2 separate regions of the Homo sapiens genome follow, and region 1 is linked to region 2. The links come from fine-mapping of genetic effects on gene expression. Tissue or cell type: whole blood. Region 2 holds a variant in brackets; the other region holds the start of a gene. All regions are shown on one strand. Distances are between the middles of the regions.

Region 1 (8,111 bases), 33 kb before region 2:
AGTGCTTTGGGAAAGCAGAAATGAGAGTAATAACTTTTTTTTTTGTGGGGGTGAAGAAAGCTTCAGGAAATTAGGAGATGTTCAGAATTAAGGATAGATTCAGCCTGGGTCTTGAAGGACGAGTAGGACATTACCATATAAACAAAGAGAAGGAGGGGCATCTAAGCAGAGTACAGTGACTGAAAAGGTATGAGGAGACAGGGAAGATCATAGGGTATTCAGGCAACTGAGACTAAATGAAATTACCAGAGCAAAGGGTATTTTGAGGAGTTATTATTTAAAAGGGGCCCTGCTATAAAGGACCAACGTGCCATGCTTGAGCCCATTGTTGGTATTCAATAAGTATTTAGTGTTCAATAAAAAATATTTAAAAAGGAATCTCAAAAGCAATGAGAATCCTTTAAAGTCTTTTCAGTAGGGGAATATCTTGATTAGGTTGAATATTAAATGAATCAAAGAAGAAAAAGAGTGGAAACTAGGAGACTACTTAAAAGCCTTTTGCAGCTCTTCAAACAATAAGTCATGTAGTCCATCGCCTCCTTGTATAGGTGAGGAAGCTATGATACCAGAGAAGTCAAGTGGTTTGTTCAAGGTCTCAAGAGCTGGTTAGTAGCAAAATTAGTTTATGCCCTATGTCCAAACATATTTTCTACTATATTTCCTTACCTACAAATTTATTCTTCACTGCCTAAGACTTGAGGTATCTGTAAGAGGATTTCCATTGTAATGGTGCAGTGGTGCAATGACACTAGTCATTGCAGACAGGACTAACTTGTTAATATTGTTTAAGCAAGATTTTTGCATTTTGTAGTCTTTTTCAGGGAGATATAATTTGATTCTTGGTATATTAAGAATGAATTTGACGAACAAATCAGCAGACCAAAGTAACTTACTGTGTCTGATTAGCTGTTTTTAAATTGTTGCTTATATTTTAAAGGCAAAAAAAAAACTAAGTGCTTATTTAACAACAACAAAAAATCCCCTTTACATTTTTTTAGAGGTATTATTTTCTCTCACCTATGAAACTTTCTGACCATAAAGTCAGTGCGTAATCACTGATGATTCCCAGCATTCTTTCTTTATCCTTGCTTCTTTTCATTTTTCAATTCTTAATCCCTCCTTTCACTTCCCCCCTGTATTACAACAACTAACAGCTGCCAAGAAAGTGGATTAGGTCATATATTCAATCAGGAGGTTTTCCTGTTATTCAAGTCACTTTCTTAGTATACCGAAACTAAAAAATAGTTATGGTTTTTGCCTCAAAAAATTCAGTTGGACTTATATTTTATTATTTGAAGGTTGGGTAGCAAGAAGCAGGTCTAAACTTACAAAAGCAAAGCAGTCATTTTGGATCTTCAACTCCCTATTTCTGTCTTGAGCTGTTTTCATTTTGATAATACATCTGAACACTCTTCTCTAACTTACTGATAATCAGTCCGTATTGTTCTACCTCACTTTGTAGACAATTTGTCATCCCATATCTACAGCTGCAGGATCAGTGGGACCCATACTGGTGGAGAAAACCATGCAGTCTCTCCATTAGGAAAGGAGAATCAGACTGAAGACTCCTGACTTGCTTTGATTTCTAATAATAGGCTGGTCTCACTGGGCCCAGGCTGTTCTAAATCTAGAGTAGTTCTGAAATACTGAGTGTGAAATAGGCAATGGTAGAAATTCTTAGGACCCCTGTAAGACAAATCAAAATTCCTTCTAGTATTCTTTTCTCCCATCATTTCCTGCACTGTGCTACGCCAAATCCAATCTCTTAAGGACCATTTCCTACATGCAACCATTGAGTGCACTTTGGCCCCAGTATAGCTTTATAAATCTCACTAGATAACTGTGGGAAGTCCATCCATGAATCATAGTATCAATGGTCTGCAGCTCAGAAAGCACAAAAGAACAAAATAAAAGTTTGAAAACTTACAGCTTTCTCTGCCAGATATTTTTTTGCCAAATATCTTAGACTCCTTTGTGTTGCTGTAACAGAATGCCACAGACTGGTAATTTATAATGAACAGAAATGTATTTCGCTCATGGTTCTGGAGTCTGGAAGTCAAAGAACATGGCCAGCATCTGATGAGGACCTTCATGCAGCATCATTCCATGGCAGAAGATAGAAGAGCAAGAGAGGATGATAGCATGTGAGAAAGTGCCAAACTTGATTTTATAAAAAACCCACTTCCAGGCCAGGTGCAATGGCTCACACATGTAATCCCAGCACTTTGGGAGGCCACAGCAGGAGAATCGCTTGAGCCCAAGAGTTTGAGACCAACCTGGGCAACATAGGGAGATACTGTCTATACAAAAAATGAAAAAGTTAGCTAGGAGTGGTGGCGCGTGCCTTGTAGTCCCAGCTACTTAGGAGGCTGATGTGTGAGGATTGTTTGAGCCTGAGAGGTCAAGGCTGCAGTGAGCTGTGATTGCACCAGTGTATTCCAGCCTGGGCAACAGAGCAAGACCCTGCCTCTGAAAAAAGAGAAAGAAACCCACTCCCACAGCATTAATTAATTCATTCATTCATGAGGGCAGAGGCCTCATGACTTAATCACCTTCTAAAAGTCCCATTTCTAAACACTGTTGCATTGGGGATTAAGTTTCTAACACATAAGTTTTGGAGGACACATTCAAAACATAGCACTAAATATTCATTGGGAACTCATGTACTTGGAATATCTACTGGCAAAAAAAAAAAAAAAAGAAAGAAAGAAAAAAGAAAAAAATTCCATATTCCGTGTTCCCATAATTGTGGTTTATATTTAGTGAAGCATCAAATGAGCATGAGATACAACTATTTTTTTTATTTACACAAAACTTGACCCTAAAATATTTAACCAACAGAAGTAGTACTAATAAAATTATTCTATGAAGTAATTTTTAATGAAGCTGAGTTTATTCAAGTCATGTCTTCTGCAAATAAAAATGGACACCAATAAACAAAAACAAAGATAGAAAGAATAACTGTGTTCTTGATATCTCCCCTAAAGTTCACAATCTCTACACCTGTTTCTTTCATCTTCTGGTGATGTTAATCTTCTGTTTATTTTGCGCTTTAAATCTAAGCACATGTGGATTACCCAGAGATTGCCCTCTGAAAGTCAGTCTACACCTGTTCTTTCTTACCTCACAAAAAGTAATGGAAAAAAAAGTGTGTGTGTGTGTGTGTGCGTCTGTGTGTGTGTGTGTCCTGTTGGTGGTAGTGTTGGTGGTTAAAAAGCAATTTGGGACTTCCTCTTTGAACAGTTGCCTTTTCCTCTCACAGAAGGAAGATTTCATTTTGTTTGAGACGAGAAACCAAACCACACACCAAAGAGAGGGGTATGATGGCTAAGAAGCCCCCAAAACCAGCCCCTCGCAGGATCTTCCAGGAAAGGTTAAAGATTACTGCTCTACCTTTGTACTTTGAAGGTTTTTTATTAATCAAGCGGTCAGGATACCGGGTGAGTCTATAGATGATAATGTTAAACCTAAGACTTCTGTTTTAATTTAATATTTATTTCATGGTGATGTGATGTGTTAAGACCTCCTTGTTTCTGTTGAAATTAAATCATCTTCTCTTCTTTGAGCTCAGAAAAATGATTCCAATTTTTCATAATTTAAATACAATGTCTGGCTTAAACCTGTATGTATACACATATATAATATGTATAATAACAGAGGTTGTAATATTAAGGCACTAATATAAAAAAGTCAATAAGCTAAATTTCCAAAGAATTTATTTAAATATCACAAAAGATTTTGGCTTGGGAGATAAAATGTTTCTTGTATTTTCTCCACAATTTATTGCTATGCTTCAATGATGACATGTACCATTAAGATAAAATGATATCATGATTAAAATTAAACCTGCTCCTGTTCTGAGTCATTTGAAGTTTATAATGATCAAATTATTAAAAATGGCTTTTGTAAAAATTGTTAAAATGACAAAGTTCATACTGTTTAACATTATATATAGTTATGTGTTCTAAAATACTATTCAAGATAGTGACTTTTAATTTTTGGGGTACTACTGTGGGTATTAAGTACACTAAGCTACATAAATACCTTTGCTCTAAGAAAATCCATGAAGCATTCTGTATTTTTAAATGTAATAATTAAAACTTATAGTTAGTTAAAATCATTACTTTTAAAACAGTAATTATGGATGACTTGAAATTAATTAGAGAAATAAGCCCAAAATTGCCTGTTATTAAATAAAAAAATCATTAAGTTAGGTCAAATTTTATGAAATTGTATACTGACTAAAACTAGAAAAATTTTAAGGTTTTCAGAAATTCCATCAGAAATGTTTAATGATGCTAAAATATATTTTCTGAGGATTTATGAATACTTGTGGAAAAATTATATATATGAAAAATCTATAATAGCATATTCACATTTCTTACATATATAATCAGATCATTTACTATTTGAGAGTAAAGACATGGTAATTTGTATTCTGTTATGGATGTTAAACATGCATAAATAATTACCTTTCAGTTATATTAGAATTTTTTAGATTGATCCTATATGCTTTTAATGTAAATTCAATCTTGTCACCACAGGTAAGCCACATAGTCACACTTTGCCAGGAAAGGGAAGTTGAGAAAAAAAAATTCTAATTAGTAATTTAAATCAGGTTGTTCATTGAATGTTTTCCAAGGTATTTATAATAACTGTTTATGATAGCAGTTTTTTTTAAATGCTTAAAGAAGACATGTCATTGGTATGGTTAGCAGAAAGAATAAGAATTTTAGAGTGTCCTTTATCTGATGGTTTTGCCACTTATAGCTTGTGATCTTGTGCAAGTTACTCAATCTCCTTGAGACTGTTTCAACTATAAGATAGAGAGTATACTACTTGCTACTTGCCTCCTAAGGTACATTCTAGGATTCAGTAGGTGTTCAATCAATTTATTCACTCAACATTTATTGTGTGCCTCCTATGCACCAAGCATCACTCATTTCTGGAGAATATGGAAAAAAACACAAAGATTTTATTTTCAAGAGGCTTAATATAGTAGGAATGATGTCTTCCTTACCAAATTTCTACTCTTTACCTTCTCTTAGAAAGCATTCTTTGAAGCAGAATGAATACCTATAGGCATAAATATTTCCAATGAAATTAACTTGTGTTTCTATTTGAATTTATAGTAAAGTATCTTTGTGTGTGTGGGTGTGTGTCTGTGTGTGTGTGTGTGTGTGTGACAGTGTCTCCTCTGTTGCCCAAGCTGGAGTGCAATGGTGCAATCACTAGTCATGCAGCCTTGACATCCCCGGCTCCGGTGATTCTCCTGCCTCAGCCTCCTGAGTAGCTGGGACTACAAGCGCATACCACACCCGGCTAACGTTTGTATTGTTTATAGAGACAGGGTTTCATCACGTTGTTCAGGTTGGTCTCAAACTCCTGGGCTCAAGCAACCTGCCCACCTTGGCCTCCCAATGTGCTAGAATTACAGGCATGGGCCTCTGAGTTAGACCACTAAGTACCTTTTACTTGTATGTCAGGGAGAAGAGAGCAAGAGGATGACAATAATACCTACTTATGTGGTGGTTTCAGGGATTAAAGGGATAGCATATGTAAAACACCTGGCTCACACTAAAGGTTAGATTCATTCTCTTACCCTTTCATCACTTATCATACTCTTATTCAGGTACTAAAATTAGTTTGAGGTCTGCAAGTAATATGACTCCAAGGAGAGTGAGCATGGTGATAATTAGAGTACTTGAAAATAGAAGCTATGAGAAAAATCTAAGCAAAATAAGTGGAATTTCCAAGCAATTGGCAGCAAAGTGCCAGGGAATCTTTGAACAGAAGGTGAGCCAAAGGTATATAGCCAAGTAATCTTTGGAGCTGATTGGCTAGAGGAAGGTGAGAGGCTCTGCAGAATGTAAAGTTGGGTCTCTGCCAAAGTCATTCAGAACATTTAAACTAGAAAAAATATAACTGAAGAGTAACCTGGTCTATAAAGGCATGAAATGCTGAGAGGTGCTTCTTAGCTATTTTTTGTGGGGCACTTTTAAGTATTTAAAGAGCTTTTCCCCAGGAAAATGTAACAACGTATACCATTTTGCATGCAATTCTAGAAGGTTTCTAAATCTGAGGTCAAGAACCCATGAAAAACACATAATCTTTATGGAAAAGATAATGTGGGAAGATTTATTTAAGCCACAGCACTAGGATTCTGAATTAACCAGGAAGATGTGTTTATTATCAAAGCTGTTAAATGCCACAGTGGAATACCATTGGCATCGCAGTTCTTACAAATGGGAAAATTTCTCATTTTTTCTGGGACCGTTTGAAAATAAGAGAGAGTGTGGGTGGGCCGGGAGCGGTGGCTCATGCATGTAATCCCAGCACTCTGGGAGGCCCAGGTGGGCGGATCACGAGGTCAGGAAATGGAGACCAACCTGTTCAACATGGCGAAACCCCGTCTCTACTAAAAATACAAAAATTAGCAGGGCATGGTGGCACGCACCTGTGGTCCCAGCTACTCGGGAGGCTGAGGCAGGAGAATCACTTGAACCTGGGAGTCAGAGGTTGCAGTGATCCGAGATCGCGCCACTGCACTCCAGCCTGGCAATAGAGCGAGACTCTGTCAAAAAAAAAAAAAAAAAAAAAAAGAAAGAAAGAGAGAAAGAAAGAAAAGAAAAAGAAAGAAAATAAGAGATAGTTTGGGCAACGTCTCATAATTTCTTCAATCTGTGATGTGCTAAAGTAAAAAAAAAAAACAGTGTGTGTGGGCCGGGCCCGGTCCCAGCTATTCGGAAGGCTGAGGCAGGAGAATCGCTTGAATCTGGGAGGCGGAGGTTGCAGTGAGTCAAGATCGTGCCACTGCACTCCAGCCTGGGTGACAGAGCGAAACTCCGTCTCAAAAAAAAAGGAAATTTTTTAGGGCTGTCTAAGTTGTGCTCACACACAGTTCTCTATGGCAGTAATCTCCAAATTTTAAAATAACACACTCCTTTCAGGAAAACATTTTGAGCACAGATCCCTAATATAAGAATATTAATTCAGCCGGGCGTGGTGGCTCACGCCTGTAATCCCAGCACTTTGGGAGGCCGAGGCGGGCGGATCACGAGGTCAGAAGATTGAGACCATCCTGGCTAACAAGGTGAAACCCTGTCTCTACTAAAAAAAAAAAAAAAAAAAAATTAGCCGGGCGAGGTGGTGGGCGCCTGTAGTCCCAACTACTCAGGAGGCTGAAGCAGGAGAATGGCGTGAACCCAGGAGGCGGAGCTTGCAGGGAGCGGAGATTGCGCCATTGCACTCCAACCTGGGCAACAGAGGGAGACTCCATCTCAAAAACAACAAAAAAAGAATATTAATTCATTTGGAAATTATAAATATATATATTCCCGTACTATTAATCCATGTAAATTATTTGATATATAAAAAATGAATTAAGAAATATGAAATAAAATATAATTAAATATTCTAAAATTTTCTCTCCCAATGGATCATCTTGCACACCTTTGGAATTTATGCATCCCATTTTGGAGACCACTATACAACATTCTTCCTTAGGTAAATGTACTTTACTTGCGCACAAAAACAAAGAATGAGAGCTTTTTATTGGGGACAGAGGAAGAGAAACTTAACTGGAGCTTGCATTGTAATTCATTTTTGCTAGTTAATTCATTTTTGCTAGTTGTATTAATGAGAAAAGAGCACTGGGAAGTCAAGAGATAAAAGTATCAGTCCAATTCTAGAATTTGGGCGATTCCTTCACATTTTTAAATCTGTTCTCTCCTTTCTAAAAAGAATAATTACTCTCTTGCATAGCTGAATAGGTTGCTCCAATGACTAAGTGGACTATATAATAATGAATGCAACCTTTTGAGGTATAACATATAATGGATCCCATTCTAGGCTCTTAGTGTTCTGTCACTGTGATCCTTACAGTAACTCTTCTGGGTAGAAATTATTTTATTCACTTCACAAATGAGTGAGTAGGTGAGGCATGCTGGCTCATCCCTGTAATCCCAGCACTTATGGAGGCCAAGGCAGGAGGATTGCTTGAGGCCAGGAGTTGGAGATCAGCCTAGGCAATATAGCGAAACCCCATTTCTACAAAATCAAAAAATTAGCCAGGCGTGGTGGCACACCCTGTATTCTCAGGTACTCGGGAG
Region 2 (8,111 bases):
TCCCACAGCTTTGCCATAGACGACGACGACGATGATGATGATGATGATGATGATATGATGTCTTTTTTTTGTTGTTGTTGTTGTTTTTTGTTTTTGTTTTTTTTGAGACGGGGCCTCGCTCTGTCTCACAGGCTGGAGTACAGTGGTGCGAGCTCGGCTCACTGCCATCTCCGCCTCCCGGGTTCACGCCATTCTCCTGCCTCAGCCTCCCGAGTAGCTGGGACTACAGGTGCCCACCACCACGCCCGGCTAATTTTTTGTATTTTTAGGAGAGACGGGGTTTCACCGTGTTAGCCAGGATGGTCTCGATCTCCTGACCTCGTGATCTGCCTGCCTCAGCCTCCCAAAGTGCTGGGATTACAGGCGTGAACCACTGCGCCCGGCCAATATGATGGCTTTTAAAAACAACAACAATCGTTGTTCTCCTTATAGGTTACCATTTGTGGGTGCTATGTTGAGTACTGGCAAACATTTCCTTCAGGCGCAATAAAAACTTTGAGACAGACAGTATTTTCCATGTTTTACAAATGAAGAGGATGAGACTCACAGAAACTACTACATTAAAACAATACATTTAAGAAGTAGTAAAAATGGTTATAATTTACTGAATGCTTAAATGTGCCAGACACTGTACTAAGGGCTTTGCAAAGGTTAACTCACAGCAGCCCCTTGAGGCAAGGCACCATCTCCATTTATAGATGAAGAAAATGGAGGTTCAGAGAACCCACATGACAATCAGAATTTGAACCAAGTTTTCTATCAGTCTTCCAACGAACAGCAATCCCTTATTTAATAGGAATACAGGAATTGTAATTGAAATTGTAGAGTTTTCAAAAGTAACTGTGTGATTACAAAGATCTTATTATGATGTGATAAAGATAAAGCCAGGTATAACCACCCTGAAAAGGTGCTGTATGACCTTCTGTGTCCAAAAATGCTTCCTTCACCAACTTGTAACTGATTCCTGAAGTTTCAGCGTTAAGGAATGTTTTCTTTTAGGAAGGAAAAGGGTTGGTTGGGTTTTATCCCATGTTTTGAAAGTAGGTTATTGGAATTTATGAGCTGTTTCCATTGTGATGTCCAATTGAGAGGTGATTTGGATATAATGGTGAATGAGAAGAGTCCCCTGAATAGAAGACTTCAGTTTCAGTCCTAAATGAAAACGGAAGGAGAAGCGATTTAAAAAAAGAAGGTAGAAAGACCCTGTGCCTAGCTTAACCTGCTGAACACTTTTGTTTTAGACAGCTTCTGTACATAGGACAAATGCTTAATTAGTGTGTCATTCAAGCAAATGACAATGTAATAAATGCTGTTCATTTGTCAACACTAGAAAAAGTTTTCATCCTAACATGCTTGCCGTACAAATCAAGGGAATTCAAGACAAACATACTCTGGTTCAAAACTAACTGACAAGGATAGTGACTTCTGATCTCAGTGTAAATTTGCTTAGTTCTAGCAGATAACATTATGAGGTGGGGGATCCTAATTTTTTTTTTTTTGAGACAGGGTCTCATTCTGTTGCCCAGGCTAGAATGCAGCGGCACCATCATAGCTCACTGCAGCCTCAATCTCCTGGATGCAATGATTCGCCCACCTAACACCTGAGTAGCTGGGACCACATATGCATGCCACCATGCCTGGCTAATTTTTTGAATTTTTTTGTAGAGATGGGGTCTCATTATGTTGCCCAGTCTGGTCTCTAACTCCTGGGCTCAAGTCATCCTCATGCCTTGGCCTCTCAAAAGTTCTGGGATTACAGGCCTGAGCCATCCCACTCATCCAGCTCCTAATATTTTAAAAACTCAACTTTATAAATATTTATTCTGTGCCTAATGCTAGAATACAGTGATGAATAGGATATGCCTCTTGTTCATAAGCAGTTCATAATCAATAAAATACCCTGTATTTGAGTGGTAATAATTTTGAGTGCTATGTGACTATAGAAGAGGAAGACAATACGATTCATGTAATGTACTTACATTATCATCTATATGTTCATATAGTGCCTAAGACCCAGTATTTTCCATATCTCCAAGTCAGCCCCAAAGTTAGTGGATATCCAGGGTGGTATATGAGCTAATATGAATAACAGCTATTGAGGGGTTTCTGGTTGGATTGGTGACAATGTAGGGTAGAAAGCAATGTACTTTTAATAATTCTTTCTACTTCTCTCAATATGGAGAATATATATTTGATTTTATATACCTACATAGAATTTTATTATGTTGTTTACTTTCTAGGTTACTGACATTAAAAGAATTATTTCTGCCTGAAAGATTTTTAATTCTTGATTCCTTTTTTCCTGTTTATTCTTTCTAATTCACCCACTCAATGACCCAGATTACCTATATCCCTAGTGAGTAGCCCCCACAAAAAGACACTCTGCAAACCAGGTAAACAGAAAATAAAAAACCACGAAGGATTTTTTTTTTTTTTTTTTTTGCCAAACTATAGTCATGACAACATAGGTTGATTATACAGGTGATATTTTATATTTACTTTAGTTTGCATTTACCCAATTGTATAATAAAATGGAGACTAACCATTTGTTTCATTGTAGCATTCCAAGAATCAAGCACTACAAAGTGATGAGCGTAGGACAAAACTACACTATTGAACTGGAAAAACCTGTAAGTAACTATTTTTGTTGTTGTTGATGAACTTCCTCCCGATTCCTTATAGCCTCCTAGTGCTGGCAAAAAGCAGCCAAGTTAAGGAGCCCTGAATGTGGCAGATATACAAGGTGAAAAGTGAGATTCAGGAACAGGTGGTGAGGCAGAGTAAAATATAATTTGCTTCTAAAAATTCTTTCCACTTTTCTTTTTCTGCAAATTTCTCAAGGTTTGCAGAGAAAGAAAAGTGGAAAAAATTCAGAGAAAGAAAGATACTTTTGTTAAACATTCTCCAATTATAAATCTTCAAATATGTTTATTTCTAATGGGAAGAAATCTGTAAATGCCTAATCCTCTAATACCTGTCTTGCTGAAGTTCAGAAATCCTCTCTTAATAGCAACATAGTAGTGAAGAAAGCATTTCTTATTTGTCTTGAACTCTTCTCCCACCCAAGCTGACTTACCATGGGGCTAATGATATAGCTAAGCACTTGACATATATCATCCAATGTAATTGTTATCATTACCCTGAGGTAGATATTGTTATGCCTTTTATACAGGTGAGATAATTGGTATTTACACTGTTCTGAACCAATGAGAATGTGGTGATGTGGCCTACATTCCAGGATGCTGAAAAAGAGAATATAGCTCTGTGATTTTAGGCTGCAGTAGTGGGAAGATTGAGTCAGGAAAGTTGTCTCTGGATATCTTAAATAGAACTGGTGGGTCTTGAAGATATTTATATTTACCTAGTTCCTCTGCTTCTCCAGGTCCATTGTGTTGATCAAGTAGAAAAAGGAACAGTGTGGTTGAATTTTTTATATTTTGGTCATAATTCTTAGAGAGCAAGGTAGCTGCTGATTCATAGAGCACACTTACATCTTTGCCATAAGTGCCTCCCAAAGCTTCTCAGTTATCAGATCCATTCCTGACTAGACTTTTAAAATAAAATTCAATAAAGAAGGCAGAAAACTAGATTGCTAAAGGATAATCCAAATAACTAAGTGACTACAAGCAATGGACAAGGAAGAATAATGTGTCATCTTTGTAACTGGGTAAACTGGGGCTCATTTCTGTCATTAGCTCATACAGTCTACAGTGTAAGGAAAACTAACAGCCTGGATTATTCTTTCATTTTTCACCCTCCCCAACCATACTCCTCAACCCCTCAGTAAGGTTGTATTTTTGTGATTTTTTTTTTTAGAGACAGGGGTCTTGCT[G/A]TGTTGCCCAGGCTTGAGCACAGTGGCTGTTCACAGGCACAATCATAGTGCCAGCCTGAAACTCCTGGGCTCAAGCGATCCTCCTACTTCAGCCTCCCGAGTAGCGGGAACCACAGGTGTGTACCACTGCGCCTGGCTCAGGAATTCTTTTTCCTCTTCAAGGTTATCTGGTATATTTATTCTGATTTCATTTGTATAAAAATATTAGTTTAGGGGTAGAGACACATTTTATCTACTCCTAGACCGGCAAATTATCCTGTTACAATAAAATACTAAAATGCTTAAATTCTCTGGTTTTAAAGGTTATTTGCTTTAAAGCATAAGAAACCAACTACAGCTAACTTAAGAAAAAATAAATTTATTATAAGAACATAGAATGACTGGAAGGGTAGCAAACCTTCAGGGACTAGGACGCAGTTACTTGTGCTAAGAACCATCTGATTAGGAAACTGGATCCTTCTTTGTTCTTCTACTCAAGTTCAAATTTCAGAAAGAAAGCATTTTCTAGCTAACTTGAGTCACATTTTTTGCTCCCCTCATTTTTTAAGGGACAGGGTCTTACCCTGTCACCCAGGCTGGGGTGCAGTGGCACTATCACAACTCATGCAGCCTCGAACTCCTGGACTCAAGGAATCCTCCTGCCTTAGCCTCCTGAGCAGCTGGCACTACAGGTGTAAGCTACCACACCTAGCTAATTTTTTCAATTTTCGTAGAGACAGGATCTCGCTATGTTGCTCAGGCTGGTCTGAAACTCCTGGTCTCAAATGATCTTCCCACCTGGACTTCCCAAAGTGCTGGGATTACAGGTGTGAGCCACCACACTTGGCTTACATTCTTATGCTTTAATTGAGGGAGAGCAAGGTACCTAACTATTGTCTACCAGATTGTATTCAATGGGAAAGGTGGTAATTCCTCAACAGAGAATGGACACATGGTCAATTAAAAAGGATAAATAAGACACAGGGATAGGTAAAACTATGGTCATACAGTAAGCCATTGAAGTGAAGTAATGACAGTAATCTCCATTAGATTCCAGTTGAGCCTTCTCTTACTCTATACTTATGCAGGTGATGCTGAGTTTTCTCTCACTCTCTATTAATACAGGTAACACTCCCAAACCTTTTCAGTGTCATTGATTATTTTGTGAAGGAGACTCGAGGAAATTTAAGACCATTTATATGTTCAACTGATGAAAACACTGGTATGTTTTTCACTTCATTGCTATGTTAAGGGAAACAAAACAAAACAAAACAAAATCCCCAAAACTCTGCATATGATTGATAGTACCAGCCAGGCAGGAACTGTAGTTCAGTCTTTAAATTTATCCATTTGGAAATCATTTTGTCACTCAGTCTGTGAAAATAGGAAAGTACCAATATGTATTATGAACAGAGTATGGGTGCATTTTAGGGAATGGAAAACCCTGAGGTATGTAGTATTACTATTAACTTCATTCTATCATTCTACTCAGCTTTATCTAACAAATTCAGAGGTAAGAGGAAACCATAATCATACAAGTTAATGGAAACCAAATGGAATTTAAAGGGATAGTCTGTCAACAACGTTAGATGCGTAATACAGGATAAAATGAATGAAGATTAAGAAGAGACGATGAAAACTGGTGATTAGCCAATAGATGACTTGAGAGAGAGAAGTTGTATTCCACTATGAAGGCAGAAGTCAGATTGCAAAATAACAAGGAATGAGTGGGTGGTGAGGAATTACAGATAAAGATTGTAGCTAGGACCAGCTACAGAATTTGCCAGCCCCTTGTTCATAAATTAAGAATTTCAAAAACAGTTATAGCAAACCATCAAACCGAGCATGAGACCCTATGCAACTGCACAGTTTACACACCCTTGAAACTGGCTCTCTTTGCAATCCAACTTCTGGCAGAGCAAGCCAGGCTGAATGTAATAGTCTCTCTCTATCTTATGCAACAGTTCCTGGTACACATGGTCACTGGCAAACTGTAAGCAGGAGAGAGAAAATATCTCCAGCTTGTGTGGATTTTAGTTATCAAAACAAGTCTCTTTTTCTACAGATTATGGGGGAAAGCAACCTTATTTGGCTATCTGCATTGGGGCATATCTGGATAGTCTTATTAATTAAAAGGATAGCAAGTTTAAAAGTCCAAGTTCTTAAAACATGATTATGAATATTGTGATGCTAAATAATAAGAGTAACCAAAACCACAGACTCTCAGGATCTGAAGGAACTTTAGAAAATTATAGTATCTTATCTGTTTAGAACTCACCTGCACATTCAGTACAGGAAACATCTCTAGGATATGACCCCTTCAGCTTGTTTGTAAATTGTGAATGTAAGAGGGCTTAAATTTGATTTTTGAAGCAGCACAGTTCACTTCTGGACAGTTCTCATATTAGAGAATTCTTCCTTGATATTGAGTCTGAAGCATTCCTTCAACTTCTACATATTAATCCAATTTCTGGCTTTGAAACAATACGACTTAAAAGGCCATCAAATATTTAAAAATGTCTACAATGTCTTCCCTCAGTTTTTTACTCTCTGTCATCTAAATTATTGGTTCCTGAATTTCTCTTACTCTCATCTTTGATGTTCTTTTTACATTGTCTAATTTTTAAACTTGTCACTTAAAATATAACCCTACTGAATAATAATGTTGAGCATCTTTTTATATGTTATTTGCCATTATATATTTTATCTGGGAAAGTATCTATTTAAATCTTTTGCCCATATTTTTATTGGGTTGTTTTTTCTTTCATGCTTGTTTTGAGAGCTCTGAACCGATACAAGCTTTTTGTGTGTGTGCATGTGTGTGATTGGGAAGTATTTTCTTAGTGGGTGATTTGTCTTTTCATTTTTTTAACAGTGTCTTTAGGAGAGCAGAAGTTTTAAATTTTGCTTCTGTAGATTGTACTTTGGTGTTATACCTGAGAACTCTGCCTAACCTAAAATCACAAAGACTATTTTCCTGTTTTCTTTTAGAAGTGCTGTGATTTCATGTTTCACATTTAGATCTATGATACATTTTGAATTATTTTTAAACTGGGAGGGATGTGTCAAGGTTCATTTAGTTGCATTTAGATGGGTAATTGTTCCAGCCCCATTTGTTTAAAAAGATTATCCCACTGAACAGGGCAGCCCACACCTATAATCCCAGCACTTTGGGAGGACAAGGCAGGAGGATCACTTTGAGAGCATCCTGGGCAACATAGGGAGACTTCGTTTCTACAAAAAAAAAAAAAAAAAAAAAAAAAAAAATGCTGGGTATGGTAGCACATGCCTGTAGTCCTAGCTACTTGGGAGGGTGAGGCAGCCAGAAGTTCAAGGTTGCAGTGCACTATGACTGTGTCAATGCACAATGTGAAAGGGCAAGAGTGAGACCCTTTCTCTAAAAAGTAAAAATAAAAATAAATGCTTCTCCATTGAATTGTCTTTGCAACATTTGTAAAAATCTGTTGACCATTTTTGTACGGATTAATTTCCAATGATATATGTTCCTACCCTTTTGCCACACTTACTATTACTATAACTTCGTAGTAATTCTTGAAATTAGGAGGATTAGTTTGTTCTTTGCTCTTTTCTTTTTCAAAATCGTTTGGACTAGTCTAGTTTCTTTGCCTTTCATTCTAAATTTTAGAATCATCCTGTTGCCATCCAGAGAACAATCCTCCTGAGACTTTGACTGGATTATGTCGAATCTGTTGATTAGTTCAGGAAGAACTGACATCATAATATTGAGTCTTCCAGTTGAAGAATGCAATATATTGGTACATTTGGGCTGTCCTTGATTTCTTTCATAGTACTTTGTTTCAGCATACAGCATTGGCACACATTTTGATTTATAGGTATTTAAATTTTTGTTGCTGGTAAATGATATTCTGTAACATTTGAATTCCATTGTTCATTGGTAGTGATATGGTTTGGCTGTTTTCCCACCCGAATCTCATCTCGAATCGTAATCCCCAAATGTTGAGGTAGGGACCTGGTAGGAGGCAATTGGATCATGGGGCCGGTTTGCCCCATGCTGTTCTCCTGATACTGAGGGAGTTCTCATGAGATCTGATGGTTTTAAAGTGGCCATTTTCCCTGTGCTCTCTCTTTCCTGCCACCTTGTGAAGACGTGTCTTGCTTCCCCTTCACCTTCTGTCATGATTGTAAGTTTCCTGAGGCTTCTGTAGCCATGCACAACTGTGAGTCAGTTAAACCTCTTTCTTTGATAAATTACCTAGTCTCAGGTAGTATCTTTATAGCAGTGTGAAAATGGACTAATACAAGAATTGGTATTGGCAGA

Evidence for each region. PIP is the estimated chance that this variant, and not a neighbour inherited with it, causes the effect.
Region 1: it holds the start of STAP1, and the variant in region 2 is fine-mapped to the expression of STAP1 in whole blood (TOPMed, PIP above 0.99).

Annotation. Positions count from the first base shown.
Region 1 is chr4:67,555,490-67,563,600 of GRCh38, forward strand. It overlaps STAP1 (signal transducing adaptor family member 1), which reads left to right and starts at 3,238. Exons shown (of 9, transcript NM_012108.4): 1 at 3,238-3,440. The coding sequence starts at 3,321.
Region 2 is chr4:67,588,324-67,596,434 of GRCh38, forward strand. STAP1 (signal transducing adaptor family member 1) reads left to right here. Exons shown (of 9, transcript NM_012108.4): 7 at 2,561-2,630; 8 at 4,937-5,033. Among named protein-coding and RNA genes, the nearest start is that of STAP1, 34 kb to the left of the region's middle. The variant G/A (reference allele first, on the strand shown) is at 3,833.